Linked DNA regions of Homo sapiens. The protein of the gene in region 1 purifies or fractionates together with the protein of each later gene. This does not show direct contact. Each region holds a gene or a part of one and is shown in the gene's direction. Other genes may lie near its edges.

The links.
Region 2: the proteins of HECTD3 (region 1) and RPS4X purify together in Homo sapiens (affinity purification with mass spectrometry; 3 studies listed by BioGRID and IntAct, with this or other methods). This does not show direct contact.
Region 3: the proteins of HECTD3 (region 1) and SLC7A11 purify together in Homo sapiens (affinity purification with western blotting; 2 studies listed by BioGRID and IntAct, with this or other methods). This does not show direct contact.

The regions. Positions count from the first base shown.
Region 1 is NC_000001.11:44,999,862-45,009,360, reverse strand, and holds the end of HECTD3 (E3 ubiquitin-protein ligase HECTD3), read left to right. Parts: intron 1-134; coding exon 135-217; intron 218-659; coding exon 660-825; intron 826-1,039; coding exon 1,040-1,121; intron 1,122-1,765; coding exon 1,766-1,948; intron 1,949-2,089; coding exon 2,090-2,142; intron 2,143-2,345; coding exon 2,346-2,410; intron 2,411-2,565; coding exon 2,566-2,669; intron 2,670-3,244; coding exon 3,245-3,364; intron 3,365-3,477; coding exon 3,478-3,567; intron 3,568-4,554; coding exon 4,555-4,761; intron 4,762-4,983; coding exon 4,984-5,113; intron 5,114-5,226; coding exon 5,227-5,301; intron 5,302-5,424; coding exon 5,425-5,506; intron 5,507-5,620; coding exon 5,621-5,692; intron 5,693-5,784; coding exon 5,785-5,869; 3' UTR 5,870-6,813; downstream 6,814-9,499. UniProt on the Homo sapiens protein: E3 ubiquitin ligases accepts ubiquitin from an E2 ubiquitin-conjugating enzyme in the form of a thioester and then directly transfers the ubiquitin to targeted substrates.
Region 2 is NC_000023.11:72,273,263-72,283,470, reverse strand, and holds the start of RPS4X (small ribosomal subunit protein eS4, X isoform), read left to right. Parts: upstream 1-6,222; 5' UTR 6,223-6,275; coding exon 6,276-6,278; intron 6,279-7,236; coding exon 7,237-7,314; intron 7,315-7,746; coding exon 7,747-7,927; intron 7,928-8,320; coding exon 8,321-8,418; intron 8,419-9,498; coding exon 9,499-9,670; intron 9,671-10,081; coding exon 10,082-10,208.
Region 3 is NC_000004.12:138,175,192-138,185,413, reverse strand, and holds part of SLC7A11 (cystine/glutamate transporter), read left to right. Parts: intron 1-169; coding exon 170-293; intron 294-2,108; coding exon 2,109-2,212; intron 2,213-3,020; coding exon 3,021-3,117; intron 3,118-4,623; coding exon 4,624-4,773; intron 4,774-6,019; coding exon 6,020-6,197; intron 6,198-7,236; exon of another isoform or gene 7,237-9,753; intron 9,754-10,222. UniProt on the Homo sapiens protein: Heterodimer with SLC3A2, that functions as an antiporter by mediating the exchange of extracellular anionic L-cystine and intracellular L-glutamate across the cellular plasma membrane.

The DNA.
Region 1 (9,499 bases):
GCTGGCCTGGGGAGGGAAGTAGGGCATGTTCCAAGCCTAGCCCAGCTTGAAAGCCTAAGTTTGAGTGAGACTCCAGCAGTCTCTGAAGGCCTGAGGCAGGAGGTATCTGAAGTGCTTCACACTCATCTCCTCAGGACCCTCATCGGGGATGTCTGTGTCCTGGAGGACATGACCGTCCACCTCCCGATCATCGAGATCCGCATCGTGGAGTGCCGAGGTGAGGTTTAAGGCTATAAGGAGGGAAAGAGAGCCCGGCGTGGAGATGGGGGCAAACAGAGAGTGTGTGTGGAGAGAAGAGGATGGGCTTGGAGTTGGGGTGAAGGCGATGCTGAACTAACTCCAGGATTTGGAGCTTTGGGGCCTGAGCCAGCTGGGACATGCCAGGTATAGGCCTGCCTTAAAGCCATACAGGTGGTTGGGCTCACCTGGAAGAGGAACTGAGTTGGGACCCTCAGGCATCCCAGCATTCTAGTGGAAGACAGAGGAATCAGCAGGAATAGATCAATCAGAATCAGGTGATAGAAGGTGATCCCGAAGGTCCCGAGTTTCTAGGGGCTAACGGTGACACAAGGCTGAGCGTTCAAGGAGCCGGTCCCAGGTCTGAGGGCCAAGGAGGCAGCAGGTGCTGTAAATGACCTTACTCTGACCCCTTCCCCCAGATGATGGGATTGATGTTCGTCTCCGAGGGGTCAAGATCAAGTCATCTAGACAGCGGGAACTAGGGTTGAATGCAGACCTGTTCCAGCCAACTAGTCTGGTGCGATATCCACGCCTAGAAGGCACCGACCCTGAAGTACTGTACCGCAGAGCTGTCCTCCTGCAGAGGTGGCTGTGGTCCTGGACCTATGGGCCCTTCCCTTCCCCCAACATTGAGCCTTGTGTGTCTGCATGGAGGAGGTTCCCAAGGTCTCATAGTATAAGCTGTTCAAGGGTCAGAGAAGCCCCCAGGTCCTGCCTTTTCCTGTCCCTTTATGTTGGGGAGTTGGGGGTGTTACAGGTATGCTAAACTCTTTAGCTGCAGTCTATCTACCCATGCCAGATTCATCAAGATCCTCGATAGTGTCCTGCACCACCTGGTACCTGCCTGGGACCACACACTGGGCACCTTCAGTGAGATTAAGGTGAGCCGACCCAGCCAGTGCTGGTCTTGGCATTTCCCCTTCCTGCTCACGTAGTTGTTCATTCCTTAGCAGAGTTCCTAAAATCTACTCTAGGGCAAGACCTTTGCTGGGTCTGGGAACATAGGAAGAAAGCCAGAACAAATGGTCCAAATTTAGTGTTTGGGAGGCTGTTCCCCAGCCTCCTTGGTATTCCAGAGTGTGTGGAATACCCAAGGGCTATTGACAGCACAGGCAGGGCAGTTTGCGTGAAAGGTACATACAGGGAGTTACCAGCAGCTCAAGATGTCTTGAGAAAAGTGTGCCAGTAGGTGTGAGTATGACAGAGGGATGAGGGTGGAAGGATGTGGGCAGGAGACAGGTCCTGGTTGCAGAGGGCCCTGTGGGCCAGGCTGTGAAGCAAGGACTTTGTCCCAGGGTAGTGGAGCTGTTGGAAAGGTAAGGAAGGTAATGACAGTATTAGATTTTTTTGTTTTAGAAAGCTCTCCCTGGTGGCTGAACTAAGGAGGGGACTGGAGACAAAGACAGGGATGGACTAGACTTGAACTGAAACGGTGGAATTGGATACAGGCAGAGGGGAAAGTTCCAGGGCCTGGACGGAGGCTGACTGCCCACTCATTCCTGCTCTGGCCACCTCTCCTCACTAGCAAGTGAAGCAGTTCCTACTGCTGTCCCGCCAGCGGCCAGGCCTGGTGGCTCAGTGCCTGCGTGACTCTGAGAGCAGCAAGCCCAGCTTCATGCCACGCCTATACATCAACCGCCGTCTTGCCATGGAACACCGTGCCTGCCCCTCTCGAGACCCTGCCTGCAAGAATGCAGTCTTCACCCAGGTCTGCACCACCTAGGGTCCGACTGAGATAGGATCAGTCAAGGGCCAAGGGGGCTAGGCCAAGAGGGACCTGAACAAGTTCTTGGGGCAAGTATAGGGCCAGGTCTTGCTTTCCTATGACTCCTTTCCTCCTTGCCTCCAGGTATATGAAGGCCTCAAGCCCTCTGACAAATATGAAAAGCCCCTGGACTACAGGTATGGCATGAGAGTGAGGGACTTACTCGGGACACCTGTTTGTGCACACAAACACACACAAACACACACACACACACACACACACACACACAACTGCTCGAGGCACCCCTCGCCATGACTGCTTTTCCCAGGTGGTCTCTGAGCTGATGAATTGTGCTGCACCTGGCCCCACATAATGACAAATCTGCCCACGTTTTTTGCAGGTGGCCCATGCGCTATGACCAGTGGTGGGAGTGTAAATTTATTGCAGAAGGCATCATTGACCAAGGTGAGGCCCTGAGGGAGGATCTCAAGGGTCCTGCTTGCTGCCCTATCAAAGTGGTAGAGGCTTTTCACCAGCTAATGATGATGGGGGACCTATTCATTACCCCATTATGGGAGCTGGGCTCTTGAGTGCCCAGCTGAGGGCATCTGTCATTTCAGGGGGTGGTTTCCGGGACAGCCTGGCAGATATGTCAGAAGAGCTGTGCCCTAGCTCAGCGGATACCCCCGTGCCCCTGCCCTTCTTTGTACGCACAGCCAACCAGGTAATCTCCGTTTCCATCTCTGCAAACCTCCCAGGTGCCAGATTGAGCTAGAAAGGGGGCAGAGGAGGGGGCCAGATTGAGCTAGAAAGGGGGCAGGCACAGTGGCTCACGCCTGTAATCCCAGCACTTTGGGAAGCCGAGGCGGGCAGATCACGAGGTCAGGAGTTCAAGACCAGCCTGGCCAATGAAGTGAAGCCCCATCTCTATAAAAATAAAAAATTAGCCGGGCGTGGTGGCACGCGCCTGTAGTCCCAGCTACATGGGAGGCTGAAGCAGGCGACTCGCTTGAACCCAGGAGACGGAGGTTGCAGTGAGCCGAGATCACGCCACTGCACTCCAGCCTGGGTGACACAGTGAGACTCTGTCTCAAAAAAAAAAAAAAATAGAAATAGGGCAGAGGAGGGACTGAGTTGCTCAGGGCAACCTCTGGGCAGACAGGGAGAGGAGGAGCCACTGTGCATTTGAAGGGATCATTTAGTGGAAAATGTTCCCAGTGGAAAATGTTCAGGGAAGTCTTTGGGCCAGGAAAATAGGGTGTATCTCATGCCACACTCACAGCTCTGTCTCTGGGGCAGGGCAATGGCACTGGTGAGGCTCGGGACATGTATGTACCCAACCCCTCCTGCCGAGACTTTGCCAAGTATGAATGGATCGGACAGCTGATGGGGGCTGCCCTTCGGGGTAAGGAGTTCCTGGTGAGTAGCCTTATCCACACCCCCGTCCGATCAGCCCTGGCCCTTGGAAGGAAAGGCCAGCCAAACCTGGGCAGCTCAGGGTGAGAAGACAGTGGGGAGTGTTTGTCACACAGGTCCTGGCCCTGCCTGGTTTTGTGTGGAAGCAGCTTTCTGGTGAGGAGGTGAGCTGGAGCAAGGACTTCCCAGCTGTGGACTCTGTGCTGGTGAGTAGGACCTGGAACCAGTGTTTCCTCTGCCCAGCCCCTAAAGGTTGGTCCTCCCTAAGGCTGTTCTGTACCTTGTTCTTTCACCACACACAAGATCCCTCTCCAATCCATCCACTCCCATGGCTTCAACTACTGTCTGTAGACTCGTGACCCCTAAAATCCTGACCTCTAGCCCCAGCCTCTCCTAAGCCTGGGGCCATATATGTATCTGTACCCTCGACGTTTGCCCCAAGATGGCATCTCAGGCTCAGTGTGTTCTTTATCTTCTCCGAAGACTACTCCCCTCTAGGGCTCCTGCCTCAGAAGGGCACCATGTCCCACTCCTCCCCATCCCAAAGCCCACAGGGCCATCCTTCACCCCTTCTTCTCCCTCGCCACCATATTCTTAAGTCTTCCTCTGTAATCTGTTTGCTTTTCCTGTCTCACTACTGTCTCCCTGCCTGGTTGAGGACACCTTTCCTCCTTAGCTAATCACTTACTAAAAAGCTGGTGTCCCTGTCTCCGTTCTTACCCGTTTGGTCTCCATGCAGCCACAGTAATTCATTTCACTCTCCTTATTTAAACTCATTGATGGCTCGGCCCTGGGCTTAGGATAGAATGCAGAATCTGTAAAGGCCTTACGTGAACCCTGTGTCTCCAGCCACTTGGTTCACATTCAGGCTCCAGCCACACAGTTTCCTTAGGCCTTTTGCTCTTTCCAGCTTTCTCCAAGATGTTCTCTCTCCTAACTTCCCTTATGTCCCAGCCATCATTTGGGTCTCAGCTGAGACACCATTTTCCACAGGATGCCTCCTCTGGCCTCCAAGGCTGGTTAGGTGTTGTCTTGATGCTTTTACAGCTCTTGTACTGACACCCTCATTCCCTGCTGCCTCCATGGGGACTGCCTTGCCTGGCTGTCTCTGCTTCCCTGTGAGCATCTTGTGGAAAGACAGGGACTATCTCCACAGTGAAAAGGTTACCTCCCTGCCTCTCTCCAACCCCTAGGTGAAGCTCCTGGAAGTGATGGAAGGAATGGACAAGGAGACGTTTGAGTTCAAGTTTGGGAAGGAACTAACATTCACCACTGTACTGAGTGACCAACAGGTGGTGGAGCTGATCCCTGGGGGTGCAGGCATCGTCGTGGGATATGGGGACCGTTCTCGTTTCATCCAACTGGTCCAGAAGGCACGGCTAGAGGAGAGCAAGGAGCAGGTAGTACCCAGAGGCTAGTAGAGCAGAGAGCTTTGGCCCCTCCTGAGCCCCAGCTCCTGGGACCCAGAACACAGCCTGTAAGCCACCAGTACTCCAAGAACTCTGGCCCCCACCATTCCTCAGTGCCACCTTTCTGCTGCTAAAAGGCCACAGTGATGCCCCCCAGTGTGAGGCGGGAGGTGTGCCCTCTTCCCCAGCCAAGCCTTTTTACCCACTCCCCAGGTGGCAGCTATGCAGGCAGGTCTGCTGAAGGTGGTACCACAGGCTGTGCTGGACTTGCTGACCTGGCAAGAGTTGGAGAAGAAAGTGTGTGGGGATCCAGAGGTCACTGTGGATGCTCTGCGCAAGCTCAGTGAGTTCCCCAAGGCAGGGCAGGGCAGGGCAGCACAGCACAGCACAGGGGTTGGGGCTCAAGGACTGGGCAAGATGAGACCCAAGAATGAATGCTGGCCTTGTCTCCACCAGCCCGGTTTGAGGACTTCGAGCCATCTGACTCGCGGGTGCAGTATTTCTGGGAGGCACTGAACAACTTCACCAACGGTCAGTGGAGGAGGGCAGGGTGACACCTGGGTTTGGACTCTGCTGCTGAGTTGCAGAGGCAGGGTAGAAGTTGTAGACCCTCCCTCACCATCCATGCAGGCACTGATTTCCTTCTCCCTCCAGAGGACCGGAGCCGCTTCCTGCGCTTTGTCACGGGCCGCAGTCGCCTGCCAGCACGGATCTACATCTACCCAGACAAGCTGGGGTGAGTGCTGGAGGGAGGCCTGAAGGTGCCATGGCCGCCTTCTGTCCTCCCTCCCCACACACGTACATGTGCCCCAACACATCTTCCTGACCTATGGTCCCTCAATGCCCCCAGCTACGAGACCACAGACGCGCTGCCCGAGTCTTCCACTTGCTCCAGCACCCTCTTCCTGCCACACTATGCCAGGTGGGTTTTTTCCTAGGCTCGATTTGGGGCCCAGGGGACCCCATCACCCCTGGTAGCGATGTAGGGACCTGACCAAGTCCCCATTCCCACAGTGCCAAGGTATGCGAGGAGAAGCTCCGCTATGCGGCCTACAACTGCGTGGCCATCGACACTGACATGAGCCCTTGGGAGGAGTGAGGCGTGCCGCCGGCTGTGGGACCAGCAAGACTGCACGTGTCCCTCTTGGCCTTGCCCAGGGCGAAGACACCTTCCCTGCCCTGGTTTGGCTGACGTGCTCAGCAAAACCCCATGTGCCCTGCTCCTGTGTGCAGTTGGGGTAGGGGCAGCTGGCATGGTCAGGTAACACTAGTGGCCCAGCCCCGCAGACCCACAAGCCCTACCCGTGCTGGGGCTTGCTTCCCGAGGTATTTCACCTCTTAAGAGGGAATCTTCCACAAGCCCAGCACAAGCTGCCAGGCCTGAGCTACTTGAAGGGGGCCATCTAGGTCCCCAACCCATGGACTTTGCCTCCATTTTCAGCTCCGCCTTTTTTCTCCTATTTTCTCTCTGGCTTTCTTCAGCCATGACTCACAACTAAAAACATAAAACACTGGAGGTTAGTGGAGGCCCCTCCCCAAGCAGGGAGCCTGGGATGGGCAGGGAGTGATAGCCAAACTCCTTGGTCACCTGCTCCAAGAAGGAAGCAGTAGCTGAGCACCTGCCCTCACATTCTGCTCTTTTCCCCTCTCCCTCCATACCAGAGATGTGGTGAGCTCTGTTCTTCTACCAACCCAGTCTCAACACACAAAGTGCCACCACCTTCCCTGACTCAGAACCCACATCCACTCAATGTGAACTCTACTACCACGACCTCCCCATATTCCTCACTTCTCCATCACCTCCAGCCTGACTCCCTGTCTGCCCTTTCACCCCCAAGATTTTGCACAGGTTAAGGCCAGTTATGGCCTTTTTGAAATCTGTAATAGCTCCCCTTTCCCCAACTCTAAAGCCTAGACCTTAAACCTGTTCCTAGAGCTATGCACACCCCTGCCCCAGTTTACCGTTCCTCCCTCAGGGCCTCCGTGACACTCCATGAAAAGAAGTTCTTGCATACCGGAAAGTTGAATAAATGGATGAATTCATTCCTTCAGAATGTGTTTATTGGGCCCTGGGCTTAGGCACAGGGTCACAAGGAGAAATTGACTTTAGTGTCCTACTCGGAGCCAAGAAGATGGATGTGAAATGCAAGTAGAGGTTTCTCAGTGACAGACTTTGCACAGTTACATATCTGGGGCTGAGCAGAGACGTAAGGGCCCCACTGCGCAGAAAAGGGAAAACAAGCAAACAGGCTGGCCTGGCATTTTCTGGCATGGATATGGTGATTTGGAGGATGGGAGTCCACTTCTGGAGCCAAGTGGGCAGAAGAATTTGACATCATAGAAGACAGAGACGGGAGGGCTGACAAACCAGCCAGGTCAGGGTTGTTGACAGAAGTGGAGGAAGTAGTGTCTTTATTACCCTGCCCCCAACCCGTTGCAGTCCTTTTTGGGTGTTTGTTTGTTTGTTTGTTTGTTTGGGTCTCTGTTGCTTAGGCTGGCGTGTAGTGGTGCAGTCACGGCTTACTCCAGCCTGGGCCTCCTGGGCTCCAGTGATCTTCCCACCTCAGCCTCCTGAGTAGCTGGGACCACAAGTATGCCACCGCTTCTGGGTAATTTTTTGCAGAGATAGGGGTCTCCCTATGTTGAACAGGTTGTTCTCGAACTCCTGGCCTCAGGCATTCCTCCCACCTCAGCCTCCCAGAGTGCTAGGATTACAGGCCTGAGTAGTCTTCAAGAACAAGTACCTGGGGCCGGCGACTCATACCTGGAATTCCAGCACTTTGGGAGGCTGAGGTGGGCGGACCACTTGAGCCCAGGAGTTGGAGACCAGCCTGGCCAACGTGGTGAAACCCTCTCTCTATTAAAAATACGAAAATGAGCAGGGCTTGGGTGCGTGTCTGTGGTGCCAGTTGGGAGACTGAGGTGGGAGGATCGCTTGAGCCTAGGAGGTGGAGGTTGTAGTGAGCCAAGATCATGCCACTGCACTTCAGCCTGGGCAACAGAGTGAGACCCTCTATCCAAAAAAAAAAAAAGGAGTATCAGGGAGAACCCTGTGTACGAACAGTCCCCCTACACCCCCACAGTGGCCAGTCACGCTCTCAAGCACAGCCCCAGGGTCCCAGTCGTCTCAGAGTCCAGGTACAATGTGAGACCTTGTGGTGGCTGATTGTCCAGATAAGTGGCTTGGCGGAGTCTCGCCCTGGCAACTCTTCCCCTTCTTGTCCTCTAGGGCACTCCCTGACACTGCCCTAGTTGGGAAACTTACTGTGCAAGAGGTTGATCTCTGCCTGCACTGTGTGCACCCTGAGACCTATCCCAAAACACGGAACTTGACAGCTCAGTCTCTCGGCTGCCACCGCCTCCCCTGTACCCCTGCACCTTGGGTGGTGAACCCCCTTCCCTTCCAGGAAGCAGAAGGCACAGAAACCCCCAAGGCCACCACTTCCACCCAGCTCTGCTCTTCCCAAGTCAGGGTGCACCTCTCCCTTCTCTCCCCTCAGGAAAGGGCCCAGGCCACGTGCTCCTACAGGAAGTAGCCAGTTTCTGTGCCTGGTATGGTCACATGAACTCTTTAGTCCCTTTTTTACTCACACTGTATATTTTGTAGCCTGCATTTCATTTAACCCTTCATTCATTCAATAAACTAATATGCATCAAGCCCCTAGGTCAGGCACTGCACTAGGTGAATGGATAAAATCGTGGCTAAAGCAGTGATAATTTTTACCCTTATGGGATTTAAACTCTAATGGGAAAGACATACAAACAAAGAGTTGCATAAACAACACTTAAGAACACTTTTGTAAAAGCTACAAAGAAGTGAAAATTGTTAGGGGACAGAACAGGATCGTTCTAACCAATGCAGCTCAATGAAATGCGAAATTCCTAAGGCATGTAACTCAACACAGAGGCCAGCTGAGAAGACTGTTGAGTACTGTGTTGCTGGAGTGTAAAAGAAAGAGAGAAATGAGACTCCAGTCTTATAAGGCCAGTTTTAGGATTTTATAATGAGCAGCCCTGAGGGCATTAAGCAAGAAAGTGACATAACTATATTTGCCTTGGTGGCTGTGTAGAGAATGGGTTGAGAAGGATACAGGTGGCAGGGATTAATCAAAGCAGGAAATGATGACGACTGGGCCAAGGGGGCACTCATTTTAACCATTATTATTATTATTATTTATACAGCGTGTCTGTCGCCCAGGTTGGAGTGCAGTGGCGTGATCTCGGCTCACTGCAACCTCCGCCTCCCGGGTTCAAACAATTCTCCTGCCCCAGCCTCCTGAGTAGCTGGGATTACAGGCGCCCGCCACCATGCCCGGCTAATTTTTTATTTTTAGTAAAGACGGCGTTTCACCATGTTGGCCAGGCTGGTCTCGAATTCCTGACCTCATGTGATCTGTCTGCCTTGGCCTCCCAAAGTGCTGGGATTACAGGCATGAGCCACTGCGCCTGGCCGACCATTATTTTTATAGGTAGCAATTGTATTACATTATAAGGAACTTTCATAATTTGTATTTATTTTAAAACCTCTACAGATGGACATTAAGATTGTTCACAAATTTTCAACACTAAAAACTACAGATGTTGCAATAAACATCCTCATGCATATACCATTGCAATATCTATTTATTTCCTTAGAATAACTTCTTAAAATGACTTCATCAAACTGCGAAACTGCCCTGTAAGAAGGATGAATCAATTTTCATTCCCTCTAGTGTCTATTTCCTAAACT
Region 2 (10,208 bases), on another chromosome or scaffold:
ACTGAGTTTCTGCTTGGGAAAATAAAAAAAATTCTGGAACTGGCTAGTGGTGATGATTGCACAGCATTGTGAATGTGCTTAATGCCAAGGAATTGTATATGTAAGAATGGCCAAAATGGCAAATAAATTTATTTATTTATTTATTTATTTATTTATTTATTTATTTATTTGAGATGGGGTCTTGCTCTGTCTCCCAGGCTGGAGTGCGGTGGCATGATCTTGGCTCACTGCAACCTCCACCTCCTGGGTTCAAGTTATTCTCCTGCCTCAGCCTCCTGAGTAACTGGGATTACAGGCACACACCACCATGCCTGGCTAACGTTTGTATTTTTAGTAGAGACGGGGTTTCACCATGTTGGTCAAGTTGGTCTCGAACTCCTGACCTCATGATCTGCCTGCTTCGGCCTCCCAAAGTGCTGGAATTATAGGCATGAGCCACTGCACCAGGCCTCAAAAAAATGTTATGTATATTTCATCACAATAAAAATGTTTTCTAAAGATGGGCCTTAATATGCGTTGACAAGGATGTGGAGCGACTGAAATTCTCATACACTGCTGATGGGAGTGTAACATGACACAAGCCACTTTGAAAAACATTTTGGCAATTTTTATAAAAGTTAAATATGCACCTACCATATGACCTAGCCATTCCACTCTTAGTTATTTGCCCGAGAGAAATGAAAACATTGTCCATAAAAATACTCGTATGTGAACATTCATAGCAGCATTGTGGTAATTGCCCCAAACTGGAAACAACCCACATGTCTATCATGGGTAAATAATTAATGTTTATCCATACAATGGAGTACTAGTCAGCAATAAAAAGAAGAAGCTAAACTATTGATACACGCAACAACATAGATGAGCCTCAAAATAATTATGCTGAGTGAAAGACACTAGACCAAAATGAGTACATACTGTTTGATTTCTATTTATTTCTATTATTTAAAAATCTAAAAAATGCAAACTCATCAATAGTCAGAGAAAGCAGATCAGCAGTTGCCTGGGAATAGGAGTGGGGATGGGAGGGGCTGGAGTGAGGGATTACAAAGGCACATGAGGAAACTTTTGTTGGTGATAGACATGTTCACTATCATAGTTGTGATGGTTTCTTTGGGTGTATACATGCATCAGAATTGTCAAATTGTGTACTTTAAACACTTACTATTTATTGTATGTCAAGTATTTTTCAGTAAAGCTTGTGTTTTGGTTTGTTTGTTTTGTTTTTTGATCCTCTCACCTCAGCCTCCAGAGTAGCTGGGACTGCTGGTGTGGGCCACCATGCCTGGCTAATTTTGTTTATTTTTATTTGTAGACATGGGGTCTTGCTATGTTGCCCAGGCTGGTTTCAAACTCCTGGGCTCAAGCGATCTGCCCACCTCAGCCTCCCAAAGTTCTGAGATTACTGGCATGAGCCACCGCACCTGGCTGGTAAAGCTGTTTTAAAAATAAGTTTAAGGCTAGATGTAGTGGCATAGGCCTGTAATTCCAACACTACTACCATGAACTGCTCATACACGTCTATCCTCCTTAGTAATCTGGGACAGGATGCTGGGGACGTGTGTCTCAGTTCTCTCTTCAAAGACTCATCTCCCATTCCCACACTTACAGAACTAGAACCATGTACTCTGTGATTTCATTTATTATATGCTAAAGCGGTTTTTACAAAACAACAGAGGAAAGATCATTCAATATATTATAGTAAGAATGTCGGTTAGCTAACATTTGGGGGGAAATATAATTTTTTTCTATTTATTCTATTTATCTTTATCAACCCCAAGTTAATAAAAAATTAAATATATGTTATTAAATAGAATTGAGTATCTAATAGATCTTTGAACTGATAGCAGCTTTCTAAGCTTTGAAGGAACAAGAAGAGATTACAAGAGAAAAGATCAACAGATTTGGCTATATAAAATCCTGAAAGTTTGTACACTGAAAAGTACAACCAAAAAGAAAATAACCAATTGGTATGACAAAGGATTAATGTCTATATTTTATAAAGCATTCATGGAAATCTACCCAAAAAACATGTCCCCAAAGATAAATGGCCAGAGATACTTCACACAAGAGGAAATGGAATGAGTAAACAAGCATGTGGCAAAATATTCAACCTCACTAGTGGCTTTTTTTTTTTTTGAGATGGAGTTTCACTCTGTCACCCAGGTTGGAGTGCAGTGGCACGATCTCAGCTCACTGCAACCTCTGCCTCCAGGGTTCAAGCGATTCTCCTGCCTCAGCCTCCCGAGTAGCTGGGATTACAGGTGCATGCCACCACGCCTTGCTAATTTTTTGTATTTTTAGTAGAGATGGGGTTTCACCATGTTGGCCAGGCTGGTCTCGAACTTTTGACCTCAAGTGATCCGCCTGCCTTGGCCTCCCAAAGTGCTGGGATTACAGTCATGAGCCACTGCACCCGGCCTAGTTGAGATTTTTTAGTGTAAATTAAAATAATTACATTAGCAAAAGTTAAAAATAGGTGATTACCAGGCTGGCACGAGTATAGTAAAATTGCAAGAATCCTCCGAGAAAGGCTTTTTGGCAATACACATATGCTACTACAAAAGGATTCAGACTCTTTGACACAGTGCTCTCTTTCTAAGGGTTACTGCCAACCACTCCCCTGAATTAATCACAGATGCACCACTTCTCCCACATCTGAGTCTCCAGCCCAGATCATGCGCCTGAGCTCAGGACTGGGTCTATAAGATATCTCCAGGCTGATGTTCCCCCGCACCCTCAGCCCTGTGTCTCAGACTCATCTCCTCATCTTCTCCTCAAGCACACTCCTCTGCCTCCTCCTTGTTCCGGTGAATGCATCACTGAGTCACCAAGCCAGAAACCTGGGAGTCATCCTAATTACCTCGTTGTCCCTCACCCCTGCACATTCATCATTTCCCAGTCAGATCCTGCCAATACTCCATCTGCAATGTCTTTTGAGTCTTTGAGCCCCCTCCTCCTCAGCCCCAGAGTCACAAATCTAGGTCTCAGCAGCCTTCAGTTTCTTGCTTGTATTGTTGACAGAGACCTGACCCATGTCCTCCAAGCCACTCACATTTCCTTCAAACCATTCTACGTGGAGGAGTTTGAGTTATCTTTTTAAAGCACAACACTGATTCTGTCCTCCTTAAAATCTTTCAACAGCTCTCCATTGTCTACCCACAGGCTAAAGTCCAAGATCCTAAAGATTTAGCTGCCCTCTGTATTACAACCCGCTTCACCACCATTTTTTTCTCCGATAAGCTTCTCCTAGCTTTCCCTCCCCACCCCCGCAGCCTGCTTCTCATATTATTATTTGTTCCTTGAGAGCAAGAACTAGATCTTAATAATCTCTGCATCCTCAGTTCATAATGCAGAGCTTGACACAGAGTAAGCACTCAATAAGTGTTGGTTGAAGGAATAGATTTATTCTAAGGAAAATATTCAACTGAAGGAAAAAGCTGTTCACTGTAGCAACACGCATAATAGAGAAAAAGTACAGAAAACTAAATGTCCAACAACAGAGAACTTGTATTAATTGTGGGACATCCACTTAATGGAATATGATACAGCTGTTAAAGTAGTAATTATGAGGATTATGCAGCAACTTGGAAAGTGTTTCTAATATAATAAAAACAGAATACAAAATGGTCTGTATGCTAGGACTAAAATTATGTAAAAGTATGCATGCACACAAGCCGATCAGAAAGAGAACAGGAAGAGGAACAAATGAATACAGATGATGTGTTTAGGGTGTTTGGGGAGGTACTGTTTGCGATTTACTTAGCTCTTTCCAAATTTCCTTTATTGTTGTTAGAATGTCATTTGTGCATAAATACAAATTGAGAGAGAGAAATATACTGAAAAAGATGCTTTGATTTCCTCAAGTCCTTTGATAACCTATGGCATAAAAACAAACCACTCACCTGGGAGGCAAGAGACAAGTCCCCTCATCCCCAAACGGGCTGTGTGATCTTGATTAAGTGAGATCTGCAGCTCTAACCAGCCATTTCTCCTATCCTCTCTAGCTGGAAAGCACATGGTTATCCCCCCACTCCCACAGCAACTTCTCCACCATTTCTGTTAATTGTACCACCATCTTCCCAGTGCTCTCAGATTAAAAACCTCAGAACCAACTTCCATTATCTCATCACCTTCACCTTCTCTCTACTCCTCACCTCCAATTAATCGATCCTTTCCAATAATCACTTATAACATGCTTTATTGTGGATTGTATCCCAGTTTTAGACAAGGAGGAGTTCCTGCCCTCTTAGTTAATACTGTCTGCTTGGTTAATACTGTCTGCTTGAGAAGAGCCAACAATGTTTCCCTCTCTTGCTCCTCTGCAGACTGCTGAGGGGTAAAGTGGATGGTACAGATAGAGACTTGTGAAATGGAACCTCATGAGTTAGGAGCTTGATCTCATGGTGGGAAGAATTCAGGCACAGGCTGGATGCTCTCAGGGATAGTACAGTAGGACTTGGCACAATAAGTGGGATGCTGACTCCGTTTATTCATTCAACAAGTATTTATCAAGTGCTGGACACAGTGCCGAGCTCTCTGTTCAGTGGCAAGGGGCCTGCCCAGATGAATTAGGGCAGGCTCCATCCTGGAGGTGCTCAGTTTGGTGGAGGCCAGGTAACTAAATTTGTCCTTGCTACCTAATGTGCTGTGTGCCCTCACCAAGTTTGAACACAAGCCTCTGGGGCAAGAATGAGGGATTTACCCTGACTGAGGGGACCACGAGCCCACAGAACCAGAGGGACTTGAACTGTGCATTTCCAAGGCTGAGGTGTGGGATTAGGTGGTACCCAGGAAGGGGGTTTGGCTGTTTGTGGCAGTTCCAAGCTAAGGAATCGAGTCCACAAGCAGTCTTGAAAGAGCTGACTCTAGCCAGGCGCAGTGGCTCAGGCCTGTAATCCCAGCACTTTGGGAGGTCGAGGCGGGCGGATCGCTTGAGTCCAGGAGTTTGAGACCAGCCTAGGTAACATGGCGAAACCCCGTCTCTACAAAAAAATAAAACTACAAAAAATTAGTTGGGTGCAGTGGCGTGCGCCTGTTGTCCCAGCTACTCGTGGGGGCTGAAGTGAGAGGATCGCTTGAGCCCGGGCTGTCTGTCGAGGCTGCAGTGAGCCATGCACTACAGCCTGGGTGACAGAGTGAGACCCTGTCTCCCAAACAAACAAACAAAAAGAGCTGACTCCCTCGGAACAAACTAGCTTGGTGGGGCTTGAGCTTTGAAGTTTGGGATTGGGGAGAGAGAGCAATGGAGCCAGATAAAGTTCAGACCTGCTCCCTTACGGCAGGAAACAGAGGGCCAAGGGCAGTTTCGAAGCAGGATCAGATCTACATTTTAGTTAGATATAACCAGACGATTTCTAATATCCTCTCTCCTCCCTGAGTCTCTATAAGTGCCAAATGCGTTGTACAGGAAGCAAGGGGGAGGATGTCAGAGTTCAAGCAGAGAAGCAAGAGGGGGTTAAAAACGTTGTTGGCTCTTCCCAACTCAGTATGGGCTGCCTGGCTGGCTCAAGGGAACACAAAAAAGGGACAGACAAAATACGTTTAAGAAATAACATTAAATATTTATTAAAATGTATTCTATTGATTATATACAAGTTCTTTGTTTTGTTTTGTTTTGTTTTGTTTTTGAGACGGAGTCTCGCTCTGTCGCCCAGGCTGGAGTGCAGTGGCGCGATCTCGGCTCACTGCAAGCTCCACCTCCGGGGTTCACGCCATTCTCCTGCCTCAGCTTCCCGAGTAGCTGGGACTACAGGCGCCCGCCACTATGCCCGGCTAATTTTTTTGTATTTTTTTTTAGTATAGACGGGGTTTCACTGTGTTAGCCAGGATGGTCTCGATCTCCTGACCTCATGATCCGCCCGCCTCGGCCTCCCAAAGTGCTGGGATTACAGGCGTAGAATCATCTGTACGTGAGACTGGAAGTAAGCTCACTTTGAACTCTCCTTGAGGCCAGGGATGTTGTGTAGCTCATCTTTGTATTCCCAGCACCTAGCACAGAATAAGGCACACAAGAGGCGCTCAGCAAATATGGGAGGAGGAAGGGCGGAAAAAGGGGAGGGAGGAAATCGCCCTTAGGAGACACCCTCTTTCCGCGGCGGTTCCTCAACTCGGGACTTCTGACCTCCCACCAGCAGATGGCAAGAAAGAGTCCCGGCGCGCCAGCAAAGGGCTGAGCTGGGCGGAGCAGCTGAAAATCCGGCGCGCGCAGTCTCCAGCCCCAATTTCTACGCGCACCGGAAGACGGAGGTCCTCTTTCCTTGCCTAACGCAGCCATGGTAAGCCGTTTAGTTAGCGAGCTCTTAGGACGTATCCGCCTCCATCCTCCCCCGGCCGGGGCTGCCCGAGGTTTCGGGATTCCTACTGGGGATGGCCGGGCAGAGGCGAAGGGATCACGGCCTCCGTGGTAGGCCGGGACGGGCTCCAGGGCGAAGGGCGAACGCTGGCCTAGGGTTGGGGAGGCGCAGATCTGGTGCTGCTGTTGGGAAGGCCTCGGTTTCTGACCCGGCCATACGTCCTGATCCCGGGAGAAGCTGCTTTTCCTCCCGGGCCGGAGCCGCGGCTGGGCCAGGAGCTCAGACTGCGAGCCCGAGGTTGGTGGGCGCTGGGGGTGCCCGGCGGAGAAAGGTTTTCTTTGTCATTGCCTTTTTGGCACGGCCTGACTTTACCATACGTGGCCGGTAAGCATCTGGACACAGCATTAAAAAGGCTTCCTTACTCTTTTTAAAGTAAAATTGGTGTCAGCTTTTGGCTTTAGTGTACGAAGGAGCAGCACATGTGTTTGTGCGGATGTCAGAATCTTGTTCCATACGTGTCAAAAACAGACGGTAATAAATTGTGAAAACTTTAGAAACACAGGTAGACTCCTGGCTCATTTCTGTTGCTGTGCGTTTCACTAGTATGGTGTTCTTGAAAGACCCTAACCTCTAAGCAGATACAGTTTCAAACAGTAACATGGAAACACTTTAGCAAGGTTCTGAAAGATAGTAATCAGTAAACGTTCTGAAACATAGTAACCAAGAATATTCTCTGTTACAATAAGAAGGCTTGTTGCAGCTTATGGATCTCACGGTGTTTGTTAAATAACTGTGTTTGTTTCTGTTTTATCGGAACACTATACTTTAATATTGTCCACATTTTGCTGAAGATGAAACTAAACTAAGAGTTTAGTTTCACACTAGGTTTTATAAGCTGTTCTGAAACCTGATTAACAGCATTGCAATCTAAAACTTTCAGGCTCGTGGTCCCAAGAAGCATCTGAAGCGGGTGGCAGCTCCAAAGCATTGGATGCTGGATAAATTGACCGGTGTGTTTGTAAGTATCTTATATAAATATTTCCGTGGCCACTGTTTTTAAGTGTCTCCCAGGACTCATTTGGGGACCAGGCTAGGGGAGGAATATCTATTCTTGGCTTCCTCTGCCCTTGAAGGAGCTATACTATCTAGCTGTCCTCCACTTCCAATCGATTTAATATTTTTGTGCCTCATTTATTCCACATACCACATAGTACATTTACATGGACTCAGGATTCATGTTCTTAATGATCCTGGTCCTCTGACAGGGAAGATGCTATAAAACTTTAAGGTATGAAATAGTTTTGGATGCTTTTTACACCTCCTGTGTAAAAGTCCAAGTTGGGTGTAATATGGACGGTCTTGGTGTTCAGTTAGTGGATCTGGTGGACTAGGAGGTAGGTTTGAGTGCTTTAGTGAATCCCAACAGTGATTATCATTTTTAACGTTACAGGCTCCTCGTCCATCCACCGGTCCCCACAAGTTGAGAGAGTGTCTCCCCCTCATCATTTTCCTGAGGAACAGACTTAAGTATGCCCTGACAGGAGATGAAGTAAAGAAGATTTGCATGCAGCGGTTCATTAAAATCGATGGCAAGGTCCGAACTGATATAACCTACCCTGCTGGATTCATGGGTAAGAAGTTTTAAATACTCTGGAGACGCATATTGATGGCAGCCCTATGGTATCCAAATACTGTCTTGATCATTTTTCTAACCTTTGTAATCTGTCAAGTCTCAGAAACAAAGCCTGACCTTCCCTCTGTTTTTTACTTAAATAAAAAACATGCAAATAATCATGAAACGCTTTTCAAAACTAAATTTCGATTCACTTTTAAATTTTACATGCAGTCATGGGGTTTTGAAATATTGAAGATCTGGCCGTGATCTTTAATCTTCAGAATCCTTGTTGGATTAGAACTGGGAGGCACATGGGGGTTCTTTTTGTTTCGTAGAGAGCTATGGTTGTTGCTCGGCATGAGGTAGTGGGGATCACTGTATGTAGTAACCGGTTACTGCTTGATTTCAGATGTCATCAGCATTGACAAGACGGGAGAGAATTTCCGTCTGATCTATGACACCAAGGGTCGCTTTGCTGTACATCGTATTACACCTGAGGAGGCCAAGGTGAGTGTGGCAAGCAAGCTGGGTCTTTACTCAGTATAGTTACTTTGTTCTAAGGGCCTGCATTGAGTACGAGTGCTGCTTGCAATGAGGTGGGTATTGATTAGTTAAAATCTCATACCTGGAAATATCTAGCTAACAATTCGATGAGATTCTGTCTTACATGTAACTTTTTGTCATGTTATTAAAAGTCTGGCTGATAGCTGTAGGGCATTGATGGATACCTAAAATTGGCCCCCATTTGAAGTTAACTTCCTCAGCAGATTTTCTTTTTTTGTGGTAGAAATGAATTCCAGTTGAACCGCGACTTCCTGGTGTCTCTTAAGAGTCAAGGAGAATGATTTCTGGGAACTTGTTTATTGGGTACCTGACGTAGGAGCCCTTTGCCATGTCTCCATTTGTGGGAGTAGCTTTACTTTGGGGAGGGGAAGGTGTCGATGGAGGAAACAGACAGTCCTTGAGGCACTAGTTTGAGGTTTAAAAAAAGATTACAGTCTTTGATTATTTAATCCAGTTTGTTTTGATGGTTTTACACAAAAGTTTAGGGCTGTTTGGATTATTGGCTGTAAATGAAGGTTAATTTAATTGACTGATGTGGCTCCTAATTTCCTTTTGCACAGCCTTGTTAACAGCAGACTGGAGGGCACGTCCAGTGGGATCTGTGATTATTTGATTTACTTCAAGGATATCAGGGAGTAGAGATCCAAAATTGAAATGCTATGTGAAGTATTTGTTGATTGGATGAACTGGTAATGTAATTGCTGTTTGTGAGACAAAACTCAGTCGTGATGTACAGGGAGCCATTAAGATAAAGTTGAGTTGAAGGGAAGAATTCCCAGGGCCCCATAAGGCTTAAAGAGCCTGGGAAACTGGAGTGGCATTTACATTGGAGGAGTGGAGGGCAATGGTGGATGTTAGGAGGACGAGCCTAGAGAAGGGCTTTATGCAACATACACTTGAGGGTGGAAAGAACGATCAGCGTCACAATTAATCTGCAGCAGTTAGGGAACCCATGGTTCCTGTATAGGGTTAAAAAGTACATGTGAGATGGATTGAATGTGGCTAACCCTTGTATTTTTCTAGTACAAGTTGTGCAAAGTGAGAAAGATCTTTGTGGGCACAAAAGGAATCCCTCATCTGGTGACTCATGATGCCCGCACCATCCGCTACCCCGATCCCCTCATCAAGGTGAATGATACCATTCAGATTGATTTGGAGACTGGCAAGATTACTGATTTCATCAAGTTCGACACTGGTAAGCATCCTCTGTGCTACCTGGGCACCCTCTTTAAGGCCTAGATCATTATGAATTGCACAGGGTCTGGGTATCTTTATTAAAAACCATCTGCTCCAATCGCCCAGGTGTGTTTATAGCCAGAGGCACAAATGCTCAGAATACTCATTTCTTTTCTTTAAATTGTTTGTTTTTTATAGAGGAGGGTCTTACTGTGTTGCCCAGACTGTTCTCGAACTGATTATAGGTGTGAGCCACCAAGCCTGGCCACAAAATTTCTTACGAGAGTCCCGGGAGTCCTAGCATAGGCAGCAGTTCCATATGAGGAAATTCAAATGGGGGGAAAGGAGGAATAAAATTTGTTTGGACCCATCTCTGAGCTGCTTGTCATTTGTTATATTGAGTTGAAGCAGATTATTTCTTCCTGCCTAGGTAACCTGTGTATGGTGACTGGAGGTGCTAACCTAGGAAGAATTGGTGTGATCACCAACAGAGAGAGGCACCCTGGATCTTTTGACGTGGTTCACGTGAAAGATGCCAATGGCAACAGCTTTGCCAC
Region 3 (10,222 bases), on another chromosome or scaffold:
AGGAATATGTGGTTTTTTGCCCTGATGAAATGTTTATACATACCCAACAGAGCCTATAATTATTGTAGATACCATTATATTCTTCATTTGAATTAGCCTGTTATTTTCTTCGGTATCAGAGAATGGCTAACAAAAGATAATGAATAAGTGATTCCTTTGTGCATTTCAGAACCATTCCCCTTGCAATATGTATATCCATGGCCATTGTCACCATTGGCTATGTGCTGACAAATGTGGCCTACTTTACGACCATTAATGCTGAGGAGCTGCTGCTTTCAAATGCAGTGGCAGTGGTAAGTCCAAGTTGGGAAAATGCCAATTGGAATTTAGGTTAATGAGCTGATGCAATTTTATAGTAGTTCCCTCTAGCAGAAAGTGTTTTGAAATTCAGTAATCTTTTCTTGACCTGAATAATAGTGAATATTTAAAAAATTTAGAGCATACCTTAGCATATTCCATTTAACTGATATATCTAAATTCCTATATGATTTCCCATTATTTCTAATTTCTTATAAAACAGTTTCACACATACATGCTTGAAAATCTGCCAAAGCTTATTCTCCCAGCATGTCTTTAAAGATAGGTGGACAGTTATTGAATCTAAATAAATGCATTTTTTCTATGCAAATTACAATTTATTCTGTACACTTTCCTGTTTGTAAACTTTTCATATGCGAACTCAGAATCCTTTCCCCAAGTGTCACTTAAGAATTTTGATGTGGACCATATAAATTTGGTTTTCCTAGTATATCCTTTTGAATACTAGTCCTGCGATATTAATAAATTTAGGAAATACTGGGTTATTCAAAGTTAAACCGATGTTGTTATAATACTTCTCAGAATATTAAAGATACCAACATGCATTTGAACTCCCTAAGAAGTGGATACACATAATTTTATAGCATTTTCCAAAATTTATTTGACACTAGGACCATCTTTGTCCCCAAAGATCATGTTATAAGACTGTTATTCTGTGATACACTTTTATTTTGCATAAAACTTAGCTAGTAAGAGACCATTCACTCTTGACCTCATAACAATGAATGGTGAAAAGTTAAGTTCCCATTACTTGATGTCAGTTCCTTTTAAAATAGTTAGTATTACCTCATATCAGCAGCATCTACAGGGAATAAATTATCTCATTTCATTTGAACCTGTGTATGAGTTCACTACATTGAAAAAGACTTCGACCACTGCTCTAAGTCCCACCAGACAATCAAATATACAAAGCTTATTGAAGTCAGGTCAGTCATCTCATCTTTTGAGACAAAGGGCAGCACTTATTCTTTGGGCATAATGTGGCCCATTAATTGCATAGCACCAGCTGCATCAAGGACAACTAATGAATCCAACACATTTTCTTTTTTTGGAAAATACATCCTTCATGGAAATTTGCAATATCGCACATATCATGGCATAAAAGAACATTTTAGAAGTTGTGTTTATCTTTTAAGTTTCTGTGGCTTATCGGACTTATATTTGTGTTCTAGCCTTTTTATAGGAAACCACAAAAGAAATTGACACATACATGAGGGGGAGGGAGGGACTTTATAAACAGAGATTTAGCTAGTGTGATTTTCTGGGAAAAAGATTTTCAGAGCTACTCATGTATATGCTATAAATTATTAAGTCATCAATTATTTTATTTACCTCCTAAGAATGGGATTGGCATATGAAACACATATCTGTAATACTTCTCAGTGTATTTCAATATAAAATTTGGTTTTCCAGGCTAAAGAGAACGTATTATACAGAAAGATTTCTATCTCCAGTAGAACTTCTGATTTGAGCTTTTATCACTTGTCAGAGTCAGAGACAATACACATCATAGTTGATAAAGATTCGATAAATGGATCATTGCTTTTTGAAAGTAGAGAGAAGGTGCTTGTTTAGATCTTTGACTATAGTTTTGCAACAAGCAATGCCATGGTCCTTGCTTTTGATTATTGTCTACGGAGTTAGTCTGACCCTAACCAAAGAGAGAAATTATAAAACATACAAGTATCACCAGGCTAATAGAAAGTCATAGAGCAAGTTTGGCCTAAATTGTTTCATTTTATTCCACTTTCTGGCAAGGCATTAATTTGCTTCGTTCTTTCTTTCACTAGACCTTTTCTGAGCGGCTACTGGGAAATTTCTCATTAGCAGTTCCGATCTTTGTTGCCCTCTCCTGCTTTGGCTCCATGAACGGTGGTGTGTTTGCTGTCTCCAGGTGAGTGAGTTCATGTATTTCCAGAAACACATTTCTGTTTTTGAGATTGGATGTGATAAGGATAACTTTAAAAAGAAAAGAAATAGTGCCTCCAAACCTGTTGTTTTTAAAGGGACATGCAAGATTGAAATATTGGTCCAAGTATCAACAGCACGTTTTATTCTGTCCATTAGAGGGCACTGCTTGCCTATTAATAGCTTATTTGGAAGACGGACATGTGGCTTTTTTAAAAATAGTATTTCCACAGTCTAACAATGGCATTTTATTTCTGGTGATATAATTTTCTGTTTCTCTGAAGATGCCAAGAAAAAAGTAAAGTAAGAGACATCAGAAATCACCACCCCTACCATCAGTATTTCCTTTGTTTAGTTTGATGCAATAGTCTTTTTGTTTTAATATACGATTAAAAGCCAATCAGATAAATGTGAATGCTACATATAGGTGTGTGTACCTGTGGATGTGCATGTGTGTGTGTTTGTTGAATTGGATTGACAACACACATATAATACTAGGAATCTAGAACTAGATTTCCCATCAGCTATTTATATGTAGAGAGAGCTATGCTGAGTCAGATATTGCTATTCTTTCTCTTCAAAGAATAATATAATGTTGGCAGATTTTGTAAAATCCAAATTTAGATTTCCTATGATATTTCTCCACCTTATTTGAAAAGTGAACTTAGGCAATCACCTAAGGAATACCTGACCATTTGGTATGAAAAGATGCACGTTTTCTCTGGGATTTTTGGATTTTCCCTTTGAAATGATCAATCATACAGTCAACTCCACCCACATTTCTCTCCCATCAGGTTATTCTATGTTGCGTCTCGAGAGGGTCACCTTCCAGAAATCCTCTCCATGATTCATGTCCGCAAGCACACTCCTCTACCAGCTGTTATTGTTTTGGTAATGCATATTAACAAGTATATCTAGATATAACCTTGAATAATAGGTTAGCAAAAAGGAATTCCAACCAGACATTAGATAGTATTTTACTTTCTCATTCATTGCTAATGTATGTCATGGTGGAGTTTGGGAGGCAGGATATCTTCCATCTCTTCCCTTTACTCCATGTTTCTGATGCCTATTTTTTTTGATGCTTTGGGGCAAAAATCATCATCACCTCACTTTCATCTTTGCAGAAATGTGTAAGGTCTAAGGAAAATGATTGGCTTGGCTCCTCTCATTGACATAGCACCTCACAGAAAAGAATGTAGAGTATTAAGTCCCAATGACTTAAGGAAAGTAGAGCAAAAAGCTACAGTCCAAAAAGTACCCAGATGTATCATCTAGGCACCTTATAATGAAATGCACACAAAATTATTGAAACAATTGATAAAATCCTAGACAGTGCCATGATTCATTTGAGACATTTGAGAGCAAGTGTCTTTTATCCTGCAGGATAAAAATAAAAGCACCACGAGGTAAATTTGAGTTGTAAAATTCTTTCTGCAGAGCAAAGTGTGAAATGTGAGCTACAAAAGACTGTATGAGGTGTAAAAGTCCTCAAATACCCATTGGCAATGTTATATTCATTTTTACTGATGATTTTGTAACATTTCTCTCAACTGGAGTCTGTTGTCAGGAGCACCACAGAATGCACTGAACATTTTTTTTTCATGCATTTAATTTGTTTCAGAACGTTTCCTTGAAATTTCTTTTTAAAGTATGTGTACTCTCTGTGCAGAATCTGGATGTTAACGTCACTTGTGGGAACAGAATGTATTATTCCGTGAAGAGGGCTTTCATTTTAAGCCTCTGCTATCAGTCATGCTGTCCTTGGCATGTGCAGCTGCAGAGACTTGCTAAGCTGATCTCTGCGCTTCATTCTTCTCCGTGGTCTTGAGGGTCACACACGGCAAGCACACCAGGAGAGTAAATGTGGAGGAAAAAAGGTCAATGTTTTGCAATCAAGAGCCAACAGAATCACCTATGAGTGTCTGTGTTTCCTGGGTGTGGATAGCCAAGAGCTCACCGGAGAGCATTTGCAGAGCTTTCTGTAAATCTTCCAATTGGGCCTCTTTTACTGTTCATTATCGGTTATTTACTAATCATCTCAATCTTTGAGTCTTTCAATTTTGAGTCATTGAGTAACCTTTCTTTTACTCTTTGAAGACATACTATCTTCTCTCAAATGCAAAAGGAACTAAAAACACAACACAACATTCATATAGAATTCCACTTGAATAAAGTATAATGGCCATATCACTCTCATACTGTTACTGGTGTGTAAATGGATTATGACAACAGAATATAGAAAAGAGATTAGTCAAATCCAAGTTTTAACTATGATGATAATTTATCGGTATAAATAATTATTTGAAAAAGGTCGTAATGCATAGTGAGGTTTTTGTTGTTAATCATCTGTGTTTTCACTGAATTCACCAAGCTTGCTTCCCTTTCCCCCCTCAGCACCCTTTGACAATGATAATGCTCTTCTCTGGAGACCTCGACAGTCTTTTGAATTTCCTCAGTTTTGCCAGGTGGCTTTTTATTGGGCTGGCAGTTGCTGGGCTGATTTATCTTCGATACAAATGCCCAGATATGCATCGTCCTTTCAAGGTAACCTCAGCAATCTTGATGGGTTTACATAAATCTCTCTCCTAATACCTAGTCCTCCCTTTGTCATAACTTGCTGATGGGGAGGTTGGGCTGGGGGCAGCATCTGTGGAATAAAAATGTTTAACTCTTGCAGGCAGTGCTTTCCTGTTGGATTTATTTTAAGTTGGAAAAAAAACAGTGGATCCAATTTTTTATGTGATGGGCTTGAACTTTGTATGTCAAATTTTTGAAAAATGACTGTATGAATGAATGTTTGGTATGTTGATTTTTCATGAATGTGTTCAATGACCTGATATACTCAAAGTATGGGCTACTTCTGTCTGTCTTTATGCTAGAGTTGTGGACAGCCATGGTGAGGAGGAGTAAGGGAGATACTTTGTTAATGCCAATTCCAAAAAGGAATTTGCCTTTACAAAATAGGCATTTTAAGTACTTAAATGTTGTGACTTGTTACATTGCTCTTTCTCTATATTATACACTCCAAAAAGAATAGAAATGTAAAATATACAGGGAAAGAGAAGATCTACAAATTTACCACTTGATACCCATTTACCATAAGTAAGCATCTCCCTTTTGGAGGACTGGAGAAAAAGCTTGTCATCTTCTTCAGACTTGACTCATGGATTGATTTGACCTCACGATTTATTTGTTTTTAAGAAATGGCATAGATAAGGTTGTCAGTCATGTTGTCAGGATTTGTTTCTAGTAATATTCATTGCCTAATGCTGGTGGCATCTTTATTAGCGGTTGAATAGGAGTTGGCTTGTTTTATTCCTGTCAGTTATTATTGTGGATCTCAACAGAAAAATCAATATGCACTGAAAGACTTTAACATGTAACAAGCAGCCGGTGCTCTTGACTCCACATTAAAGTGGGTTCTAATCATAATTATCAAAGAGCCAGTCTTTTAAAATCAAAACCATAAATCATCATGGCATTTAACTAGTAAAATAATTCCAACAGAACATCTCTAATAAAGTATCCATTTTTGTCCTTAGAGTTTGTTCTAGCCAAAGATTTAAAAACAATTTAAATTAAGTTGAATTACATTTAAGGGAGTACGTTTAATACATTATCTGTGCACCATGAAAGAGATTTTGCTACTAAGGCACGTTGGTGCCTGTTACCTGGTCGCATGACTACAGCATATCACTAAAGTATATGTCATGACTGACACGCTCATCTCAAACCCAGCTTCTGTTGCTTGAACATGTTTGAAGTGACTTTTTTGTGTTCTGTGTTCCAGGTGCCACTGTTCATCCCAGCTTTGTTTTCCTTCACATGCCTCTTCATGGTTGCCCTTTCCCTCTATTCGGACCCATTTAGTACAGGGATTGGCTTCGTCATCACTCTGACTGGAGTCCCTGCGTATTATCTCTTTATTATATGGGACAAGAAACCCAGGTGGTTTAGAATAATGTCGGGTAAGAATTTTAAATACTTTCAGGACATTGTGCAACACCATGTAGAAAACCCATAAAGGTGTGCATACATAATATACTTAACATTTAAAAATGTAAGTGGCACAATTGATTTGAGAACATTATGGCATTTTAATTGGAACTGCTTTTTGGCAGGAAGGACATTTAGGGTACAGCCGTTGAATCCTTTTGGATATTAGTTTGGGCTGCTGTAATCACTTCTTAGGAGAAACAGCTTTGTTTTAGATGAAATTTTATCAGTAGTTCTCTAATCGACCTAATCTCTCTTTGAATCCTTTACTAACCTAATTATTTTCCTTCTAGTTTGAATGCAGTTTAGTGATTTTATATCATAATATGTAACTTGATGAGTGACACGAGATTTGTTGGGGAGTTAGGCAGTGGCCTGCAAATGCCTTAAACATTATGACTGTACGCTACCTTAAAAGGAAGGGTGACTCATGAAGGATTATAATAACAAGAACAATGGAGAGAACAATAGCAGCTTCCACATGTGAGTGCACATGTATGACTTCATTTAATTTTTTTTAAATTTTACTTTAAGTTCTGGAATAAACGTGCAGAACGTGCAGGTTTGTTACATAGGTATACATGTGCTATGGTGGGAATGTAAATTAGTTCAACCATTGTGGAAAAACAGTGTGGCAATTCTTCAAGAACCTAGAACCAGAAATATCATTTGACCCAGTAATCCCATTACTGGGTATATACCCAAAGGTTTATAAATCATTCTACTATAAAGACACATGCACACGTATGTTTATTGCAGCACTATTTACAATAGCAAAAACTTAGAACCAACCCAAATGCCCATCAATGATAGAATGGATAAGGAAAATGTGGCACATAAATATGATAGAATACTATGCAGCCATAAAAAAGAATGAGTTAATATCCTTTGCAGGGACATAGATGAAGCTGGAAGCCATTATTCTCAGCAAACTAACACAGGAACAGAAAAGCAAACAGCACATGTCCTCACTCATGAGTGGGAGTAGAACAATGAGGACACATGGACACAGGGAGAGGAACAAGACTTTATTTAATTCATATAATATCCTACTGAGGTAGGAAAATTATTATCCCCAGTTAATAGGCTTTGAATTATAGCATGAGAGAATTCAGGTCACTTGTTCCAAGTCATACAGATATAAAGTAGAATAGCTGAAAGTCAAACTCAGGCAGTTTTATATTTTAGGAGAATCACCCTGGGGGTTATGAGGATGGATTAAGATAGGTTGGGGCTGAAGACAGAATATTGACTTTGGTGGTTACTGCAGCAATCCTGATGAGAATTGAGGGGGATTCTGAAGACAGGCAGTATCAGCAGGGTCTGAGAGAAAGTGAAACATACTAAAAGGAAAAATCAGCAAGACTTGGTGACCAGTTAAACTGGGGGAGGAGAAAACATAGTAGATGACTAGGTAGGAAGGGTGCTTATGAATAGCCTGTGTTGAAAGCATATCTCTCTGTCAGAGGCTCTCCTGAGTCCTCTCCCCTACATGATCATCTCAAGCAATCCTCAACAAGGTTGATGTGTGAGGTGCTATTATTCCCAAGTCCAGATGAGAACACCAGAGCTCAGGAAAATGGAGAATTTATTTTTGAGTGTATGTATTTTAAACCATAGAACTAGGAATTGAACCCACATCTGCTGGACTTCTAAGTTCATGCTCTTTCTAGACTGGATCCCTTGTGGAAGTGGGGGGGGCGGAGAGAGAGAGAGAGAGAGGGAAAGAGAGAGACAGAGAGAGAGAGGGAGAGAGAGAGACAGAGAGAGAGAGAGAGATAGGTAGGTAACAAATATAGCCAGAAGGGCAGATCTATTCTCGCTGGTGAATGTGGTGAGTTTAGAACATAGCTTTCATACTTTTTCTTTGTTTTAATTTACTTACTTTACCATAATTAATTTTTTAAATTCCAGTTAAAAGTTTGGGGAGATTTCTGGTTAAATTATTAATAAATAATGCCAGTGTTACTAAAAAAACAAACAACCAAAAACCTTGATATGCATATTGAATCTCTAGTGTGCTGTGCAGACTCATTGAGAAGTCAGTCCTTTAAAGCAGAGTTTTATTAATACCTTTTATTAGCATTCAATTGGAATTTTGCATCTTTAGATCTTATACTAATATTTATATCTGGATTTTGTTTCCCCAAAGAAATGTTACTATACAAATGAGGTGCTTTATGGCTGACACAGGCACACTGATTGCCTTAACTGAGTATTTAATCTCTATTTCTTCTCAGATCACACTAGCTTTCTGTGGAATATTTTTAAGTTTTCTGTGTTCTAGACACTAAATATAGAGCCTGTTCTGAGGGAAAAGGGATCTTATTAAATACCATTTACCATTAGGGTTGCTTTATTCATTGCTAACATTTAGGATAGATTAGCACTCATCGCTGTGAAATCTGTCTGTCTCCCATACTAACCAAGACAGTTAAAACCCCTGAGCAGCACAGAAAATTAAGAGAATTGAGGAAGAAAGAGCTGGTGGTCCTAGAGTTAGACTAGAAGAAAGGGAGCATGATGAAAGAGCAAAGCCATTGTTCGATCCCACTTTAGCAGGCATTTTGTTCCTCCTGTTTGGAGTCAGCCAACTCTAATAGTTCTTTCCTCTTGCTAACAAGCACGTGTGTACTTTGTATTATTTCTTTGTCAGTTCATCTCAACAAGCGGTTTTCATGCTTGATCCTTCATTGATGTCTTTTGGTGTTCATGTAATTTTAAAGTTTGTTGCTATTTTTCTATCTCTAATGATGTTTTGAACATTTCCAAGGCCTCCAAATTTAGTGTTAGCCATTTGTGAAACTAGCAGCAATGGAGTAGTCCCATAATGGTTATTTGGTTCTCAAAAATGCCATTAAGTCTTACCAGGGAGCATGGCAATTCTGCTTTTAAACTGCGATCATTGTAACTCTTTATCTTTATAGCTGCCTTGAAAGTGAGTAGCAAAAAGCAACAGTCCTCCGTAATTTTGTTTGATTTTTCTCTGAGGCAGCATTCTTGTAGTAAAATAAAGAAAATTCATAATATTTATTGCTGCAATAGGAAGTATTTTCTTAGCCTTTGGCCAAAACAAAACACTCACACACAGACGCACAAACAACAAAATCCTGAAGCAGCGCCCTGTCCCTTCTCCCAACTACTCTATGATCATTTTGTTAGAGAGAAACTCAATGTGAACTTAGAGACCAAGAGCCTTTGCTTGGAGCAGTTTGTTCAATGATTTAATATCATGTTCTTTCATTAGGTAAAATTCCAAAACCTTTATATTATCATTTATTTTTACCCTGATAATGCATGAGTAGATCAGCCCTGTGAAAATGATAGTCTATCAAAATGCATTTTACCTAGGTTGTTTCCATGAAAAATGAGAGGTAACCAAATAGCACTCGGAAAATGGTGAAAGGCTGCTGAGAACTGACAGCCAGGGAATGTTCAGAATCCAAGGAGCTGAGATTTTCAGAGATTTGATAAATCTCTCCAGCCACAGGATGCCAGTATTGAACCACTTTTTGTTTGATAGCATTTCTAGGGAGAAAAGAAAACATGCTCTTAAGGGAATGGTGAGATACACGGAAAGCTTTTTTCTGCCATCTGTGACAGAGTGGTTTATTCTTCTGGTGGGTTAGTTATATTATTTATTTACTTATAGAAACACAAGCTTCTCACGCGAGGAAAAAGGGGCGGATACCCCAATGACATATGCAAATACACAAAGATAGCAAGACCTGGCAAACCTGGGCCAGGACTCACAGCAGCTGTTTTACTTGGCTGTCTCTATTTAGCAGCCAAACCTTGTCACGGGGTTGAGTGAGGTGACTGGAAGTGGGTCCCTCCTGCTCAGGGAGAGAGATAGAGGACAGCCTTATTTAAACAAAATCTTTGATTATAAAAAATCAGACTGGGAAACACCAGCAGAATGACTGTAATGCATCTTTGTGGACAGTGAGTTTGCAACTCCAGAGTCCTAAAAGCATATGCTGCATACAGTGGGTCA